Linked DNA regions of Homo sapiens: region 1 is linked to region 2. The links come from fine-mapping of genetic effects on gene expression. A gene starts in region 2. The other region holds a variant in brackets. All regions are shown on one strand. Distances are from middle to middle.

What was found. PIP is the estimated chance that this variant, and not a neighbour inherited with it, causes the effect.
Region 1: its variant is fine-mapped to the expression of YJU2 in whole blood (TOPMed, PIP above 0.99).

What each region holds. Positions count from the first base shown.
Region 1 is chr19:4,268,627-4,277,353 of GRCh38, forward strand. YJU2 (YJU2 splicing factor homolog) reads left to right here. Exons shown (of 8, transcript NM_018074.6): 8 at 1-462. The coding sequence ends at 70. Among named protein-coding and RNA genes, the nearest start is that of SHD, 6.3 kb to the right of the region's middle. The variant G/T (reference allele first, on the strand shown) is at 5,678.
Region 2 is chr19:4,243,741-4,252,625 of GRCh38, forward strand. It overlaps YJU2 (YJU2 splicing factor homolog), which reads left to right and starts at 3,340. Exons shown (of 8, transcript NM_018074.6): 1 at 3,340-3,430; 2 at 5,488-5,588; 3 at 7,287-7,431. The coding sequence starts at 3,407. RefSeq lists enhancers at 2,400-3,171, 2,930-3,069, 3,410-3,499.

The DNA of each region.
Region 1 (8,727 bases), 25 kb after region 2:
GCCTGGCGCGTCCTCCCTGAGCCAACTGGGTGCATACCTGGACAGTGACGACAGCAACGGCAGCAACTGAGCCCTCCCAGGACCCCCTCACGGGGTCAAAGTCACACGTCCAGCTTCAGCCACATTGAGGCCAGCATTGCTGGTGGTCAGGGCAGGAGGCCTTGGCGTGACTGGAGGCCGGACAGACAAGCGCCAGCGTGCTCCAACACATAGGGCCACCAGGGGCCTCAGCCCCAGGAGGTCCCTTCTCTGTGCCCTCACCAGCCTCTCAACACCTCGGGGACCCCTGCTGCTCCTGCCCCCACCTGTCACTGTGCTTAGGGCTGCAACATCCCTGGAGCAGCTTCCAACACTACTTCAGGGTGGCAGTGTTTGGGGCACTGGGCGAGCCTGCCGGCCTCTAGATGGCCTCATCTCTTCCTTCCACAAACTGTCTAGAACCAATAAAAGGAAACCTGCCAACCGCCTGGGCCCCTTCTCTCTCCCAGAGTCTGATGAGGAGGTCCCAGGACCTCCTCTGTTAGCACAATTCGAGGGTCATTCCACAGAGGTTTGTTTGTGTCTTGAGACAGGATCTCACTCTGTTGCCCAGGCTGGAGTGCGGTAGCGTATTCTTGACTCACTGCAGCCTTGAACTTCCGAGCTCAGGTGATCCTCCCACCTCAGCCTCGCGAGTCGCTGAGACCTCAGGTGGATGCCACCATTCCTGGCTAACTTTTTGTATATTTAGTAGAGACTGGGTTTCATCATGTTGCCCAGGCTGATCTTGAACTCATGGGCTCAAGTGATCCTCCTGCCTCAGCCTCACAAAGTGCTGGGGTCACAGGCATAAGCCACTGTAACAGGCATGAGCCCAGATATTTATATTTAGTTGTCGCCTGAGTGTGCATCTGGGCTCTTTTTGTTTTCTCTTCTTTTTTTTTTTCTTTCTTTACCTTTTTTTTTTTTTTTTTTTTTTGGAGACGACGTCTCGCTCTTGTCCCCCAGGCTGGAGTGCGATGGCGCGATCTTGGCTCACTGCAACCTCCGCCTCCCGGGTTCAAGCGATTCTCCTGCCTCAGCCTCCAGAGTAGCTGGGATTACAGGCGCCCGCCACCACGCCTGGCTTAATTTTTGTATTTTTAGTAGAGACAGGGTTTCACCATGTTGGCCAGGCTGGTCTTGAACTCCTGACCTCAGGTGATCTGCCTGCCTCAGCCTCCCAAAGTGCTAAGATTACAGGCCTGAGCCATTGTGCCCTGCCTGTACAATCTTTTTGTTTGTTTGTTTGAGACAGAGTCTCCCTCTGTTGCCCAGGCTAGAGTGCAGTGGTGTGATCTTGGCTCACTGCAACCTCCACCTCCCAGGTTCAAGCAATTCTCTGCCTCAGCCTCCCCAGCAGCTGGGATTACAGGTGCCTGCCACCACGCCCAGCTAATTTTTGTGTTTTTAGTAGAGACGGGTCTCACCATCTTGGCCAGGCTGGTCTTGAACTCCTGACCTCAGGTGATCTGACTGCCTCAGCCTCCCAAAGTGCAGGGATTACAGGCGTGAGACACTGCACCAGCCTGGAATCTTTTAAAGTGAACAATATGAACCTTCTTTGAGTAGGCAGTTCCATTTCTGGCTGTCTGTTCTAAGAGGTATTTGCCCACATTCATAAGGAAACACCCACGAGGAGGTTTGTCGTGACACTGTGTTTAGCAGCAACATTATGGGGAACGAACCCAATGTCCCCAGTAGGTGAAGGCTGAACTCTGGCATAAATAATGGAATTCCAGCCGGGTGTGGTGGCTCAGGCCTGGAATCCCAGCTACTTGGGAGGCTGAGGTGGGAGGATCACTTGAGCCCGGGAGATTGAGGCTGCAGTGAGGTGTAACTGTACCACTGCACTCCAGCCTTGGTGAGAGACCAAGATCCTGCCTGAAAAAGGGGGAGGGGGGTGGGGAGCTAGGCCCAGGACAGGAACTGTGGCATGTTCCTGTAATCCCAGGACTTTGGGGGGCTGAGGCAGGAGGGTTGGTTGAAGACAGGAGGTCGAGTCCAGACTGGGCAACATGGCCAGACCGTTTCTCAATTTGTCTTTTTTTAAAGAAAGGTGGGGCACGGTGGCTCACGCATGTAATCCCAGCACTTTGGGAGGCCACGGCGGGCAGATCACCTGAGGTCAGGAGTTCAAGACCAGCCTGGCCAACATGGTGAGACTCCCACCACCCCCACTAAAAATAAAAAAATTAGTCAGATGTGGTGGCGGGCACCTGTAATCCCAGCTAATTGGTAGGCTGAGGCAGGAGGATCACTTGAACCTGGAAGGTGGAGGTTGCAGTGAGCTGAGATCATGCCACTGCACTCCAGCCTGGGCAACAGAGTGAGATTCCATCTCAAAAAATAATTAATTAAAAAAAAAGATGCTACAATTTGCCTTCAAAGGGGCTGCGCTCTACATACTCAACAAGGATGGGACTCACTGGCTTTATGAGTAGAAAGCTCTGGCTGGGAAGTTCCCCTCCTCGGCGGGGGCAGCAGAAGGAGTTGGCAGAGGGAAGGAAGGAACCTGTGTTTATCAAATGTTCCCTGAGCATTTGGCAGAAACAAAGTTGAACTCCCACTTCCAACACCCGTTCTTATTTTAATTTTAATTTTTTTTTTTTTTGAGACAGCATCTCACTCTATCACCCCCGCTGGAGTGCAGTGGCAGGATCTCGGCTCACTGCAACCTCCGCCTCCCGGGTTCAAGCGATTCTCCTGCCTCAGCCTCCAGAGTAGCTGGGATGACAGGCACGCGCCACCCTGCCTGGCTTAATTTTTGTATTTTTAGTAGAGATGGGGTTTTGCCATGTTGCCAGGCTGGTCTCGAACTCCTGACCTCAAGTGATTCGCCCGCCTCAGCTCCCAAACTGCTGGGATTACAGGCGTGAGCTACCGCACCCGGCCCCCAAAAAACTTTTATGTATTATATATTTTTACAATAACATATAAATAATGTATACCGAAGGTGGTGAAAATAAAGCAGGTGAGTGTGTTCTAAGGAGATGCAGAGGGGATGCCTTGGGAACGTGTTTATTGCCCATCTCTCCCTCTGTTTGTTTTCTGGTGCTGCATAACAAATTATACCAAAACTGAACAACTTAAAAACAACATAGAGCTGGGTGTGGTTTCATTGGGTCTCCCGCTTTAAGGTTTAGCAAGAATGCAATCAAGACAGAGGCCAGGCTGGGCGCAGTGGCTCATGGCTGTAATCCCACCACTTTCACAGGCCGAGGCGGGCGGATCACTTGAGGTCATGAGTTCAAGACCAGCCTGGCCAACATGGCAAAACCCTGTCACTACAAAAAAGTACAAAAATTAGTTGGGCATGGTGGTACATGCCTGTAATTCCAGCTACTTGGGAGGCTGAGACAGGAGAATCACTTGAACCCAGGAGGCAGAGGTTGCAGTGAGCCAAGATTGCACCACTGCACTCCAGCCAGGGGGACAGAGCGAGACTCCCGTCTCAAAGAAAAAAAAAAAAAAAAGACACAGGCCCAGGCTGGGGTGTCATCTGAAGGCTCAACTGGGGAAGGACCTGCTGCCAAACCTTTGTGGTTGTTGACAGAATTCAGTCCCTCATGGCTGTTGGCCAGAAAACACTCTCAGTTTCTTACCTACACAGACCTTGTCTGCAGCTTGTGTCTTTGTCCATTTGCTGCTGCTTTCACAGAACACCACAGACTGGGTAAATTATAAACAGTAGAAGTTTATTCGGGCCGGGCGCAGCGGTTCACACCTGTAATCCCAGCACTTTCAGAGGCTGAGGTAGGTGTATCACCTGAGGTCAGGAGTTTGAGACCAGCCTGCCCAACATGGTGAAACTCTGTCTCTACTAAAAATACAAAAATTAGCCGGGCATGGGGCAGGTGCCTGTAATCCCAGCTACTCCAGAGGCCGAGGCAGGAGAATAACTTGAACCCGGGAGGCAGAGGTTGCAGTGAGCCAAGATTATGCCATTGCACTCCATCCAGCTTGGACAACAGAGTGAGACTCCATCTCAAAAAAATTGGTGCACCCCAGCACCCCAAAACCAGCTGGCACATCGTGGGTGCTCGCAAATGGGTTGAGGGGGCATCACCCCATTCCCCAATGAGGAAACAGGCTCAGGGAGCCCCAGGTTTCACCTCCTCCCCTCTCACACCCCACTCTTTCATACACCACTGGAATTTTATTTTTATTTCTTTTTTTTTTCCCCTGAGAAGCTTTGTTCTCTCACCCTGTGTCCTGGGGGCAATTCTGCTCTCAGCCCCCAGTTCTCTCCTGGGGGTTCCCAGGACTGAGGGAGTAGAGGGGCAGGCACAGCCATGCATCGGGCTCTGTCCCTCCTGACCAGCGGGGGACCCCTCCCTGCCCTGCCCCACCTCTCAGGGCCCCCTACCCTCACCCTCTGAAGCCTGCCCTTCCCCTATCCCTGCCGACAGTACCCGTTCCCCACCAGCCCGCGTCTGTCATCCTGTCTTCGGGAGCTGTCAGCCTTCATCTGAGATCTCCATCAACTCCTCCGGGGCTGCCTGGCTGCTGGAGCACATCAGAGGGATGGGGAGGAGGGGCGATGGGGGCCCCTTCTGCTGGAGCCCACTGCCGCCCCAGCCTGGGCTTACAGGAGAAGAGGGGCCATGCCATTTCCCCAGCTTTTGCCAGTTCCAGTGTGAACTTGGGGCTCCCTGAGCCTGTTTCCTTATCTGGGAATGGGGTGACACCACCCACTCAGTCCACAAACACCCCCCGGGCACACGCTCTGTTGCTGCCCCATTTACAGGTAAGGGAGACTCCTCGACCTCCAGGGTGAGGGAGGGACAGGGCCTGGGTATGAAGCTCCAGGCTCCGAGGCTACGCCTTTGGTCACCCACCCCACTGCAACCCCAAGAGCTGGGCTGTGCCTGCGTGTCAGACTGGAGCCCTGGAAGGGCTGGATCATGCCTCCCCCATCAGGTAGGGGCCCCTAGAAGGAAGGCTCGCTTCTCCTCCAGCAGACTGGGACCTTGTAAGTTAGTTAGGGCCATGCCTCCTGTGTTGGACTGGGCCCTTGAAATTTACACCATACCTCCCCCATCAGACTGGGGACGCTTGAAGTTTGGACTATGCCTCCCTCATCAGACTGGGGACTCTTGAAGGCAGGCCTATGTCTCCTCCATTACTCTGGGACCCTGGAAGTCAAGACTATGTCTCCTGCATTAGACAGGGGACCGTTGAAGGTTGAACCTGCCTCCCCCATCAGACTGAAGATAGGTTCACGTCTCCTTCCTCAGAGTGGGAACCCCTCAAGGTAGGGCCATATCTCTCCCATCAAATGGAAGCTCCTGAAGTCAGAGCCGCAACTCTTCCATCAGACTGGGGGCTTCTGTGGACAAGGCCATGCCTCTGCCATCAGACCGTGAGTTAAGAAAGGCAGAGCTGGCCAGGTGCAGTGGCTCACGCCTGTAATCCCAGCACTTTGGGAGGCCGAGGCGGGCGGATCACGAGATCAGGAGATCGAGACCATCCTGGCTAACACAATGAAGCCAAGATTGCGCCACTGCACTCCAGCTTGGACGACAGAGCGAAACTCTGTCTCAAAAAAAAAAAAAAAAAAAAGACAGAGCTGGCTAGGCACAGTGGCTCATGCCTGTAATCCCAGCACTTTGGGAGGCCAAGGCGGGCGGATCACAAGGTCAGGAGTTCAACACCA[G/T]CCTGGCCAACATGGTGAAACCCCGTCTCTACTAAAAGTACAAAACTTAGCCAGGCATGGTGGCATGCACCTGTAATCCCAGCTACTCCAGAGACTGAGGCAGGAGAATCGCTTGAAACAGGAAGCGGGAGGTTGCAGTGAGCCAAGGTCATGCCACTGCACTCCAGCCTGGGCAACAAGAGTGAAACTCCATCTCAAAAAAAAAAAAGGCAGAGCTGGCCAGGCGCAGTGGCTCACGCCTGTCATCCCAGCACTTTGGGAGGCCAAGGCTGGCATATCACCGGAGGTCAGGAGTTCAAGACCAGCCTGGCCAATGTGGTGAAATCCTGTCTCTACTAAAAATAAAAAATTAGCTAAGTGCAGTGGCACACACCTGTAGTCCCAGCTACTTGGGAGGCTAAGGCAGGAGAATCGCTTGAACCCAGGAGGCGGAAGTTGCAGTGGGCCAAGATTGTGCCACTGCACTCTAGCCTAGGCAACAGAGTGAGACTCTGTCTCAAAAAAAAAAAATAAAGATGGCTGGGTGCAGTGGCTCTCACCTGTAATCCCAAAGCTTTGGGAGACCGAGGCAGGAGGATCACTTGAGGCCAGGAATTCAAGACCAGCCTGGGCAACATTGCAAGATCCCAATTCTAGAAAAAAAGATTTTTTTTTTTCCAAGATGGAGTCTCACTCTATTGCCCACGCTGGAGTGCAGTGGCACGATCTCGGCTCACTGCAACCTCTGCCTCTCAGGTTCAAGCGATTCTCCTATCTCTGCCTCCTGAGTAGGTGGGATTACAATGTGCCTGCCACCAAGCCTGGCTAATTTTTGTATTTTTAGTAGAGACGGGGTTTCACCATGTTGGGCAGGATGGTCTCGAACTCCTGACCTCAGGTGATCCACCCGACTCAGCCTCTGCAAGTGGCGGGATTACAGGTGTGAGCCACCACACCCAGCCCTCTAGAAGAATTTTAAAAATTAAAAAACACAGGCCTGGCCAGGTGCGGTGGCTCACGCCTGTAATCCCAGCACTTTGGAAGGCCGAGGCGGGTGGATCATGAGGTCAAGAGATCGAGACCATCCTGGCCAACATGGTGAAACCCTGTCTCCACTAAAAATACAAAAATCAGCTGGGCGTGGTGGCACATGCCTGTAGTCCCAGTTACTCGGGAGGCTGAGGCAGGAGAATCACTTGAACTCGGGAGGCGGGGGTTGCAGTGAGCTGAGATCGTGCCATTGCACTCCAGCCTGGTGACAGAGCAAGCTCCGTCTCAAAAAAACAAACAAACAAACAACAACAACAACAAAAAACACAGGCCCCAGAATGGACGCAGCTTGAGGACATCACGCTCAGTGAGAAACACCAGACACAGAAGGCCACAAAGTGTGTGATCCCATTTCTATGAAATGTCCAGGACAGGCCCATCCACAGAGGCAGGAAGTGGATTTGTGTTTACCAGGAGCTGGGGATTTGGAGAGATGGGGAGTGACAGCTAATTGGGTATGAGGTTTCTTTTGGAGGTGACGAAAATGTTCAGGAATTAGGGGTGATGGTCGCACAACCTTGTGGACACAGGAGAAACCACTGAATTGTACACTCTAAATGGGTGAACTGTAGGATATGTAAGTTATGTTTTTTGTTTTTTTGAGATGGAGTCTCGCTCTGTTGCCCAGGCTGGAGTGCAGTGGCTCAATCTTGGCTCACTGCAACCTCTGCCTCCCGAGTTCAGGTGATTCTCCTGCCTCAGCCTCCCGAGTAGCTGGGATTACAGGTGCCCGCCACCACGCCTGGCTAATTTTTGTATTTTTAGTAGAGACGGGGTTTTACCATGTTGGCCAGGCTGGTCTCGAGCTCCTGACCTCAGGTCATCTGCCCACCTCAGCCTCCCAAAGTGCTGGGATTATAGGTGTGAGTCACTGCACCCAGCCAATGTGAATTGTATCTTTAAAAAAAAAAAAAGCAACAAGGCCGTGTATGGCAGCTCACTCCTGTAATCTCAGCACTTTGGGGGCGCCAAGGTGGGCGGATCACGAGGTCAGGAGTTTGAGAGCACCCTGGCCAACATGGTGGAACACCATCTCTACTAAAAATATAAAAATTAGCTGGGTGTGGTGGCGGGCGTCTGTAATCCCAGTTACTTGGGAGGCTGCGGCAGGAGAATCGCTTGAACCTGGGAGGCGGAGCTTGCGGTGAGCCGAAATTGTGCCACTGCACTTTAGCCTGGGCGACAGAGCAAGACTCGGCCTCAAAAAAAAAAAGCGGCCGGACTCGGTGGCTCACGCCTGTAATCCCAGCACTTTGGGAGGCTGAGGCGGGAGGATCACAAGGTCAGGAGATCGAGACCATCCTGGCTAACAGTGAAACCCCATCTCTACTAAAAATACAAAAAAGTAGCCGGGCATGGTGGCGGGTGCCTGTAGTCCCAGCTACTCGGGAGGCTGAGGCAGGAGAATGGTGTGAACCCGGGAGGCGGAGCTTGCAGTGAGCCGAGATCGCACCACTGCACTCCAGGCCCGGGCAACAAAGTGAGACTCTGCGTAAGAAAAAAAAAAAAGCAAAAAAAAAGCCGGGTTTTGTGGTATGCACCTGTGGTCCTAGCTACCAGGAGGCTGAGATGGGAGGATCATTTGAGCCCAGGATGTTGAATGTGAGGCTGCAGTGAGCTGTGATTGCATCTCCAGCCTGGGCAACAGAGCGAGAGACCCTGTCTCAAAAAAAAAAAAAAAAGGGAGAAAAGAAAAATCCAAATCTCACAAGGTTACGTGGCTGATTCAAGGTCACAGGGGAAGGTGACTGGACCCCTAGCCTGGATCTCTTTCTCTTCTACCTAATCCTCCTGCCTCTCCCTGCCAGCCTCTCCCCACTCCCCTCCTTGGGGTAGGGTCGGGGTGCAGCCCCAGGAGAAGCCAGCTCCAAAGCACAGGAAAGTCAAATGCCGTTTGATTCCGGCCCCGGGGCCTCTAATTGCTATTCCTGACACAGATTGTAATTAGAAGGCCCCTTTCAAATATTTATACCTCAGACATCTAGTTTTATCCGGCAGGGAGACGACTTGGATTTGATGAG
Region 2 (8,885 bases):
TAAACTTTATTTAACACCATTCCTTGTCCCATATTATTGTCTTCCTGGTGCCAGGAAAAGGGGTCCCTAGCTGGGTGTGGTGGCTCACACCTGTAATCCCAGCACTTTGGGAGGCTGAGGTGGGTGGATCACCTCTTGAACACCTCAGGAGTTCAAGACCAGCCTGACCAACATGGAGAAACCCCGTCTCTACTAAAAATACAAAATTAGCCGGACGTGGTGGCACATGCTTTTAATCCCAGCTACTTGGGAGGCTGAGGTAGGAGAATAGCTTGAACCTGGGAGACGGAGGTTGCGGTGAGCCGAGATTGTACCATTGCACTCCAGCCCGGGCAACAAGAGCAAAACTCCTCAAAAAAAAAAAAAAAAAAAAAAAAAAAGGAAGGCTACTCAGTTACAAAGTAGGGCGTCCTCAGAAAACAAGAGGAGGAACGCCTTGTCTTTGTTTTAAGGTTTTTATTTTTATTTTATTTATTGATTTATTTTTGAGATGGAGTCTTGCTCTGTCACCCAGGTACAATGGCACGATCTTGGCACGATCTTGGCTCACTGCAACCTCCACCTGCCAGGTTCAAGCGATTCTCCTGCTTCAGTCTCCTGAGTAGTTGGGATTCAGGCATGTACCACTGCGCCCAGCTAATTTTTATATTTTTAGTAGAGACGAGGTTTTACCGTGTTGGCCAGGCTGGCCTTGAACTCCTGAGCTCAAGTGATCCTCCCACCTCGGCCTCCCAAAGTGTTGGGATTACAGGTGTGAGCCACCATGTACAACCGGTTTTTTCTTATATAGGGGTCTTATCTGTGTGAAAGCTATGTCCACGTGTAGGTGGGCTGACCGCGTGACAAAACGTAGTACTTTGTCGACTTAAAGAAAGTTATCCTGGCTGGGTGCAGTGGCTCACACCTGTAATTGTAACACTTTGGTAGGCCGAGGCCGGCAGATCACTTCAGCCCAGGATTTCCAGACCAGCTTGGGCAACATGGCGAAACCCTGTCTCTACAAAAACTGCCAAATATTAGCCAGGTGTGGTGGTACCTATAGTTCCAGCTAACTCGGAAGGCTGAGGTGGGGGATCGCCTGAGCCGGGAAGTGGAGGCCACAGAGAGCCATGATTGCGTTACTGCACTCCAGCCTAGGTGACAGAGCGAGACCCTGTCTCAAAAAGTATACATACATATCCTTGCCATTTTAGTGCCTAAGTACATTACACCATGACTATAACCATATTTTCTTTTTTTTTTTTTGAGATGGAGTTTCACTCTTGTCACCCAGGCTGGAGTGCAATGGCGCCATATCGACTCACCGCAACCTCTGCCTCCCAGGTTCAAGTGATTCTCCTGCCTCAGCCTCCCAAGCAGCTGGGATTACAGGCATGCACCACCATGCCCGGCTAATTTTGTATTTTTAGTAGAGACAAGATTTCTTCATGTTGGTCTGGTTGGTCTTGAACTCTCGACCTGCACCACCGCACCTGGCTAATTTTGCATTTTTAGTAGAGACGGGGTTTCTCCGTGTTGGTCTGATTGGTCTTGAACTCCTGACCTCAGGTGATTCGCCCACGTCGGCCTCCCAAAGTGCTGGGATTACAGGCGTAAGCCACCATGCCCGGTATCTTTTTCTTTTTTTTCTCTTTTTTTTTTTTTTTGAGATGGAGTCTCACTCTGTCGCCCAGGCCACAGGGCAGCGGCACAATCTCGATCTCAGTTCACTGCAACCTCAGCCTCCTGGGTTCATGCAATTCTCCTGCCTCAGCCTCCCAAGTAGCTGGGATTACAGGTTCCCGCCACCACGCCCGGCTAATTTTTGTATTTTTAGTAGAGATGGGGTTCCACCATGGTGGCCATGGTGACCAGGCTGGTCTCGAACTCCTGACCTCAGGTGATCCACCCTCCTTGGCCTCCCAAAGTGCTGGGATTACAGGCATGAGCCACCGCGCCTGGCGACTATAACGATCTTAAAAGCATACATTGCTATGCAATATCAGGACATCTGGACCTTCCATTGTTGTAGTAGTGTGTCCTCCTAGGCATTTGTAAGACGTTTTCTCAATTGTAAACATCTTATGACCCTGGCTCGTGACTGGCAGCGAATGTGCCTTGTTAATTTTAAGATGGAGTTGATTTTTGGCCAGGTGCAGTGGCTCATGCCTGTAATCCCAGCACTTTGGGAGGCAGAGGCGAGCAGATCACCTGAGGTCAGGAGTTCGAGACCTGCCTGGCCAAAATGGTGAAACCCCATCTCTACTAAAACTACAAAAATTAGGCAGGTGTGGTGGTGCGTGCCTGTAATCCCAGCTACTCGGGAGGTTGAGACAGGAGAATCACTTGAATCCTGAGGTGGAGGTTGCAGTGAGCCAAGATCGCACCACTGGAGGCAGAGGTTGCAGTGAGCCAAGATCGCACCACTGCCCGTCAGCCTGGGCAACAGAGCAAGACTCCTCAAAAGATAAATAAATAAACAAACAATTGCCACAGCAACATCAAGAAGTTACCCTATATGGTCTAAAAAAGGGAGGTATGAATAATCCACCCCTTGTTTAGCATATCATCAATAAATCACCATAAACATGGGCAACCACCAGCCCTTGGGGCTGCTTTGTCTGTGAAGTAGCCATTCTTTTATTCATCTACTTTCTAAATAAACTTGTTTTTGCTTTGCACTGTGGACTCGCCCTGAATTCCTTCTTGCACGAGATCCAAGAACCCTCTCCTGGGGTCTGGATCCGGACCCCTTTCCTGGAACAATCTGACACAGAGGAAACGTCCATGAAAGGTGGGGAGGAGGCTGGGGAAGGAGGCTGGGGAAGGAATGGGATGGGAAGTCCTCGTTAAGGGGAAGGCACAGGTGGGCAATGGAGGGACATTTGGGAGACACTGCGTATGTTTAGGAAGTTGGTTTGGAGCCTGATCTTTAAGTCAATGTCTGTGACTCAAGAGTCGTCCAGGGTCCTCTTAAGTCACCCTATGTGTGGCCCCAACCCCATGTGAGAGTTGCGGGCCCAGGAACGATGTGTGGATTCCCAGAGCCCAGAATACAAGGCAGGCGCATAATACATATTTGCTGAATAAAAGAATGAAGAACAAGAGGTCACGTTACAAAATTTTAACGAGCCGCTGCCCGCTTCTAGGGGGCGCAGCGCACTATACAAAATTCTCCAATTCCACATGGCTCCCGGAATCCTTATTTCGCGCTACTCAGGTTGCAACTCCGGAGGGAAGACGCTGGGACTTCCAGCTTGATAGGCGGGGATTGGAACCAATGAAAGAGGTCTGCTGTGTATGCTGCAGCCAATAATAGCGGCCGAAGGAAGTGACGTTTGCGGAAGTAAGGCTTCCGTCGGAAAAGCTCGATAATTACCCAGCCTAACCATTTCTCAGGTGCTTGCGAGGTGATCAGAAGGCAAAGATGTCGGAGCGAAAAGTATTAAACGTAAGTGTTGGGCGACTGGGGCTTTTCAATCGGAGCAGGACATCCCGGAACTCCGGGAGAGGGAGGAGCTTCCTGAGATCTCTTCTTTGGAACCCTTCTTTCCCAGCGGCCTTCCGCGAGATGGGGCTTCCCAGACTCCTCCCTAGACTCCTCCCCATCGCCTTCCGTCGGGGGGGTGGGCCTTCGCTAAGTCTCCCTTCTGGGCTGGGGTGTAGTTAGTCACCTGCGGGGCGTGGCTTGGGCTTTTACCCAATCACCACCAGATAGGGTTTTTTTTCTGGGGGCGGGGCTTCCTTAAATGCTGGCGGCCGTGTTTTGCCCTCTTCTTGAGGGGCGTGGCTCTGAGAAGCCCCGCCCCACTTGGGGACTGTAACCAATCGTGTACTTTGGGTGGGGTGGGGTGGGGTGGCGCGTGTGTGTGTGTGTGTGTGTGTGTGTGTGTGTGTGTGTGTGTGTGTGTGTGTGTGTGTGTGTGTGTGTGTGTGTGTGTGTGTGTGTGTGTGTGTGTGTGTGTGTGTGTGTGTGTGTTTTGTTTTTTTTACTGGGGTCTGGTCATGCAGATAACCTCTGCCTTACAGTGGCCAAGATTTTACTGGGGTCTGGTCATGCAGATAACCTCTGCCTGACAGTGGCCAAGATTCCAGACTCCCAGAAGAAAAGCAGAGGTTCAGTATAAACTATACTGTTGGCACACTTCTGTTTTTTGGTTTTTTGAGATGGAGTTTTGCGCTTGCTTCCCAGGCTGGAGTGCAGTGGCACGTTCTTGGCTCACTGCAGCTTCTGCCTCCTGGGTTCAAGCGATTCTCCTGCCTCAGCCTCCTGAGTAGCTGGGACTGCAGGCGCCCGCCACCATGCCTGGTTAATTTTTTTTGTATTTTAGTAGAGATGAGATTTCACCATGTTGCCCAGGGTGGTTTTGAACTCTTGATCTCAGGCATTCCACCCACCTCATACTCCCAAAGTGCTGGAATTACAGGCGTGAGCCACCGCGCCCGGCCCCACGCAGGTCTTTCTAGGAGAGCAGTCTCAGGCTTGCTGTAGGAACTCCTGGGAAACAGGAGCCCTGGGATACAAAGGGAGTGTGAGTATGGATTATGACAGATACCTCCACTGCACCACTGGAAAATAAAGCACTTTGTGTTTGGAGCACCTACTGGGTGCCAGACACTGCAAAGAGCACTTTATCCCCCTTGCCTCAAGGAATGCGTGCAAAGACTCTTGGAGACAGAGGACAGTGTGCGCATTTCACAGAGGAGTAAACTGAGCCCTGCAGGTTTCAGCTCCTCAGGATTCAGATCCAGGGAGATGACTCTGTAGGAAACGGATGTAGTATCGTGATTGGGAGGCTGAGCTAACAGAGTCCTGGTTTACCCTCTACAGAATTGCTGGGGAGTTGGGACTCCTCGGGGAACTCGGTCTCCTGCCTGAACAACAGAAGTGCTAAGCAAAGCTTAACCTCTACAAAGGGCAGGGCATGATGGCTCACGTGTGTAATACCAGCTCTTTGGGAGGCCAAGGCAGGTGGATCACCTGAGGTCAGGAGTTCGAGACTAGCCTGGCCAACATGGTGAAACCCCATCTCTACTAAAAATACAAAAATTAGCGGGGAGTGGTGGTGGGCGCCTGTAATCCCAGCTACTGTAGAGGCTGAGGCAGGAGAATCGCTTGAACCCAGGAGGCGGAGGTTGCAGTGAGCCAAGATCGCGCCACTGGACTCCAGCCTGGGCAACAAGAGCAAAACTCCGTCTCAGAACAAAAACAAAAACAAACCCTGGCTTTTTAGAGCTTCCCGTGTAGACAGCATTTCATGTGTATTGTCATGACTGGTATTTAGGAGAATTAAATGCGTCCTGTATAACTCCACTAGGAGAGAGTCAGGAAGCTTGTGCCTGGCCTCCCTCTGACTGTACTGAGTCCTGCGAGTCCTCCCTGCCTGTCGCGGAACCTGGGGTGGGCTTGGGGACCCCCGACACAGCTCCCCAGAGCCCCTTCCCTCTGCCATGTCCTGCCCCTGCTTCTGAAAATAACTCCCCCAACGTTTCCTTCCTCCCCTGCAGAAATACTACCCGCCGGACTTTGACCCATCAAAGATCCCCAAACTCAAGCTCCCCAAAGACCGGCAGTACGTGGTGCGGCTGATGGCCCCCTTCAACATGAGGTGAGCACCCCCTGCGTGACCCCACACACCAGTCATGGCTGAAGGACGCAGTGCCTGGCATCCACAGAGGTGACTCGTCCGGTGTTAAGACCAGATCACTGGTCTTAGACATTGTCCTGGCTCAGACATTGACCATTCCAACCCTCCTTCGCCTCACCACTTGGGATTAAGCTTTGGATCTTTTAGAGCCCTCCAGCCAGTGCCTGCCTTGAGATCATGGTGGTTAGTAAACGTGTGTGCAGAGAGGATAGGACGCCACAGAGATGCAGCCCCATAGATATATTTCAGCTCCTCCAACAGCCAAGCTCGTTCCTACCCCAGGGCCTTTGCACACACTGCTGCCCCTGCTTGGAACTCTCTCCCTCTACTTTCTTTCTTTCTTTTTTTTTTTTTGTTGAGACAGAGTCTTGCCGTGTTGCCCAGGCTGGAGTGCAGTGGCGTGATCTCAGCTCACTGCAACCTCCACCTCCTGGCTTCAAGCGATTCTCCTGCCTCAGCCTCCCAAGTAGCTGGGATTACAGGCGTGCACCACCACGCCCGGCTAATTTTTGTATTTTCAGTAGAGTTGGTGTTTTACCATGTTGGCCAAGCTGGTCTCGAACTCCTGACCTCAGGTGATCTGCCCTCCTTGGCCTCCCAAAGTGCTGGGATTGCAGGCGTGAGCTGCCGCACCTGGCCTTCTCCTTCTACTTACACATGGCAGGCTCCTCTTGTCTGCCATAGGTCATGGCTCCAATCTCACCCCTCCGGGAGGCCTCCATCATCCCCTCACGGTGCCCAGATCTTGCCTTTTGTAGCACTTCAGAATTACTGTATTTCACCAACTCTCAACCCCATACCTTTTCATGCTCTAGCATATCTGAAATCACGCACCTAACGAGGAAAGAGACATCTGGGTCAGTGAAATTCGGTTCATGCCCATGTGTTGTTGGCCTGTCTACTCCTCCCCCTCATTCATTCATTTATTCATTCAACACTCATTTATTGGGCACCTGCTGTGTGCCAGGGTCTGTGCCGAGCGCCAGGAACAAAGTCCCTGGCCTCATGGAGCCCACAGTCTAATGGGAAGTGGAGAATAGTGGTAGTCAGGCAGGTGCACGGGCCCCCGAAGTCAGGCAGGAGAGAGCCCCTGGGGCAGTGGCGCAGGAGGGAGGGCTATAGGTAGCTGGGGTACGGTGACATCAGGCAAAATACTGGTGGCGCTGAGGTCTGAGGATGAAGGGTGTCGCCGGCCATGAGACTGTAGGAGCAGAGGCCTTGAGCTGGGACTGAGCTGGGGGTGTTTGCAGGATCAGACAGGAGGCGGGCGTGCTGGGCTGGGGAGCAGAGCCCGGAGTAGGAGGGGAAGAGGGGGGTGGGGCAGCATTTTTCTGTGTGGCATCTTTCCTCCTGGAGGGTGGGGTGCCCCGTAAGCACAAAGATTGCTTCTGGGAGTGCATGACAGGCAGGCCTCACCTACTCAGGGGGCTTCCCAAGCAGGCGACCCTTGGACTGAGCCCCAGGAAGATATGAATGAGAACACGAAGTTCTCAGGTAGAGGAAATTTGGACACAGGGTGGGGCAGCCTGCCTCTTGAAGGAGGGAGCTCCCCGTTGCTGGAGGCAAGCAAGCAGTGATCTTGCAGGATGCCGCAGGGACAGCCTGCCAGTGGGAGCCAGCGTCCCAAGACAGCTCACATCCCTACATGCTGCCCCGCAGGTGTAAGACGTGCGGAGAATACATCTACAAGGGGAAGAAATTCAATGCTCGGAAGGAGACGGTGCAGAACGAGGTCTACCTGGGCCTGCCCATCTTCCGCTTTTACATCAAGTGCACGCGCTGCCTGGCAGAGATCACCTTCAAGGTAGGTGAGACGGCCGGCCAGGCCGGTCCCTCTCCCCCAGCACACCTCAGATCAGGGCGGGCCCTGGGGTTCCTTAACTCCAATCCTCTCCATCCAGGGAATCTCATTTCAGTTTATCCCCAAGAAACAGACAACAGTTTGGGGGAGATGTTCATGGCAGCATTCTAAATAAAGGCAAAAAGACAGAAGCAACCTAGATAGATAATAATAAGGGATGAGAAGAACAAATTAGCATGCAGGCTGGGCATGGCTCACACCTGTACTCCCAGCACTTTGGGCGGCCAAGGCGGGCAGATCACCTGAGGTCAGAAGTTCAAGACCACCCTAGCCAACATGGCGAAATGCCATGTCTACTAAAAATACAAAAATTACTGGGCATGGTGGCGGACTATAATCCCAGTTACTCGAGAGGCTAAGGCAGGAGAATCACTTGAAGCTGGGAGGCAGAGGTTGCAGTGAGCGAAGATTGCACCGCTATACTCCAGTCTGGGTGACAGAGCAAGACTCCAACTAAAAAAAAAAAAAAAAAAAGCCAGGCACAGTGGCTCATGCCTGTAATTCCAGCAGGTTGGGAGGCCAAGGCAGGAAAGAGAGCCCCTGAGGTCAGGAGTTTGAGACCAGCCTGGCCAACATGGTGAAACCCCGTCTCTACTAAAAATACAAAAGTGAGCCAGGCGTGGTGGCTCATGCCTGTAATCTCAGGTACTTGGGAGACCAAAGCAGGAGAATCGCTTGAACCCGAGAGGGAGAGGTTGCAGTGAGCCAACATTGCGCCATTGCACTCCAGCCTGAGCAACGAAATGAAACTCTGTCTCAAAAAGAAAAAAAAAAGTAGCGTGCAATGGAATATTACACAGCCAATAAAAATTGCAATTTGACTTTTATTTGTTACCTTGAGAATTTAAGGAAAGACTGAAGATAACTTAAAATTTTCTCTTCCTATGCTTAAGTACTCTTTGAATACTTTTTTGCCATAAGCTTTTTTTCTTTGATTAAAAAAACATTTTGGGCTGGGCGCAGTGGCTCACAGCTATAATCAGCACTTTGGGAGGCCAAGGCAAGTGGATCAGTTGAGGTCAGGAGTTCGAGACCAGCCTGGACAACATGATGAAACCCCAACTCTACTAAAAAAAAATACAAAAATAGGCCGGGCGCAGTGGCTCACGCCTCTAATCCCAGTACTTTGGGAGGCTGAGGCAGGCGGATCATGAGGTCAGGAGATCGAGACCATCCTGGCTAACACAGTGAAACCCCGTCTCTACTAAAAAAAAAGCAGAAAAAAATTAGCCAGGCGTGGTGGCGGGTGCCTGTAGTCCCAGCTACTCGGGAGGCTGAGACAAGAGAATGGCGTGAACCCAGGAGGCGGAGCTTGCAGTGAGCTGAGATCGCGCCACTGCACTCCAGCCTGGGCGACAGAGCGAGACTCCGTCTCAAAAATAAATAAATAAATTAAT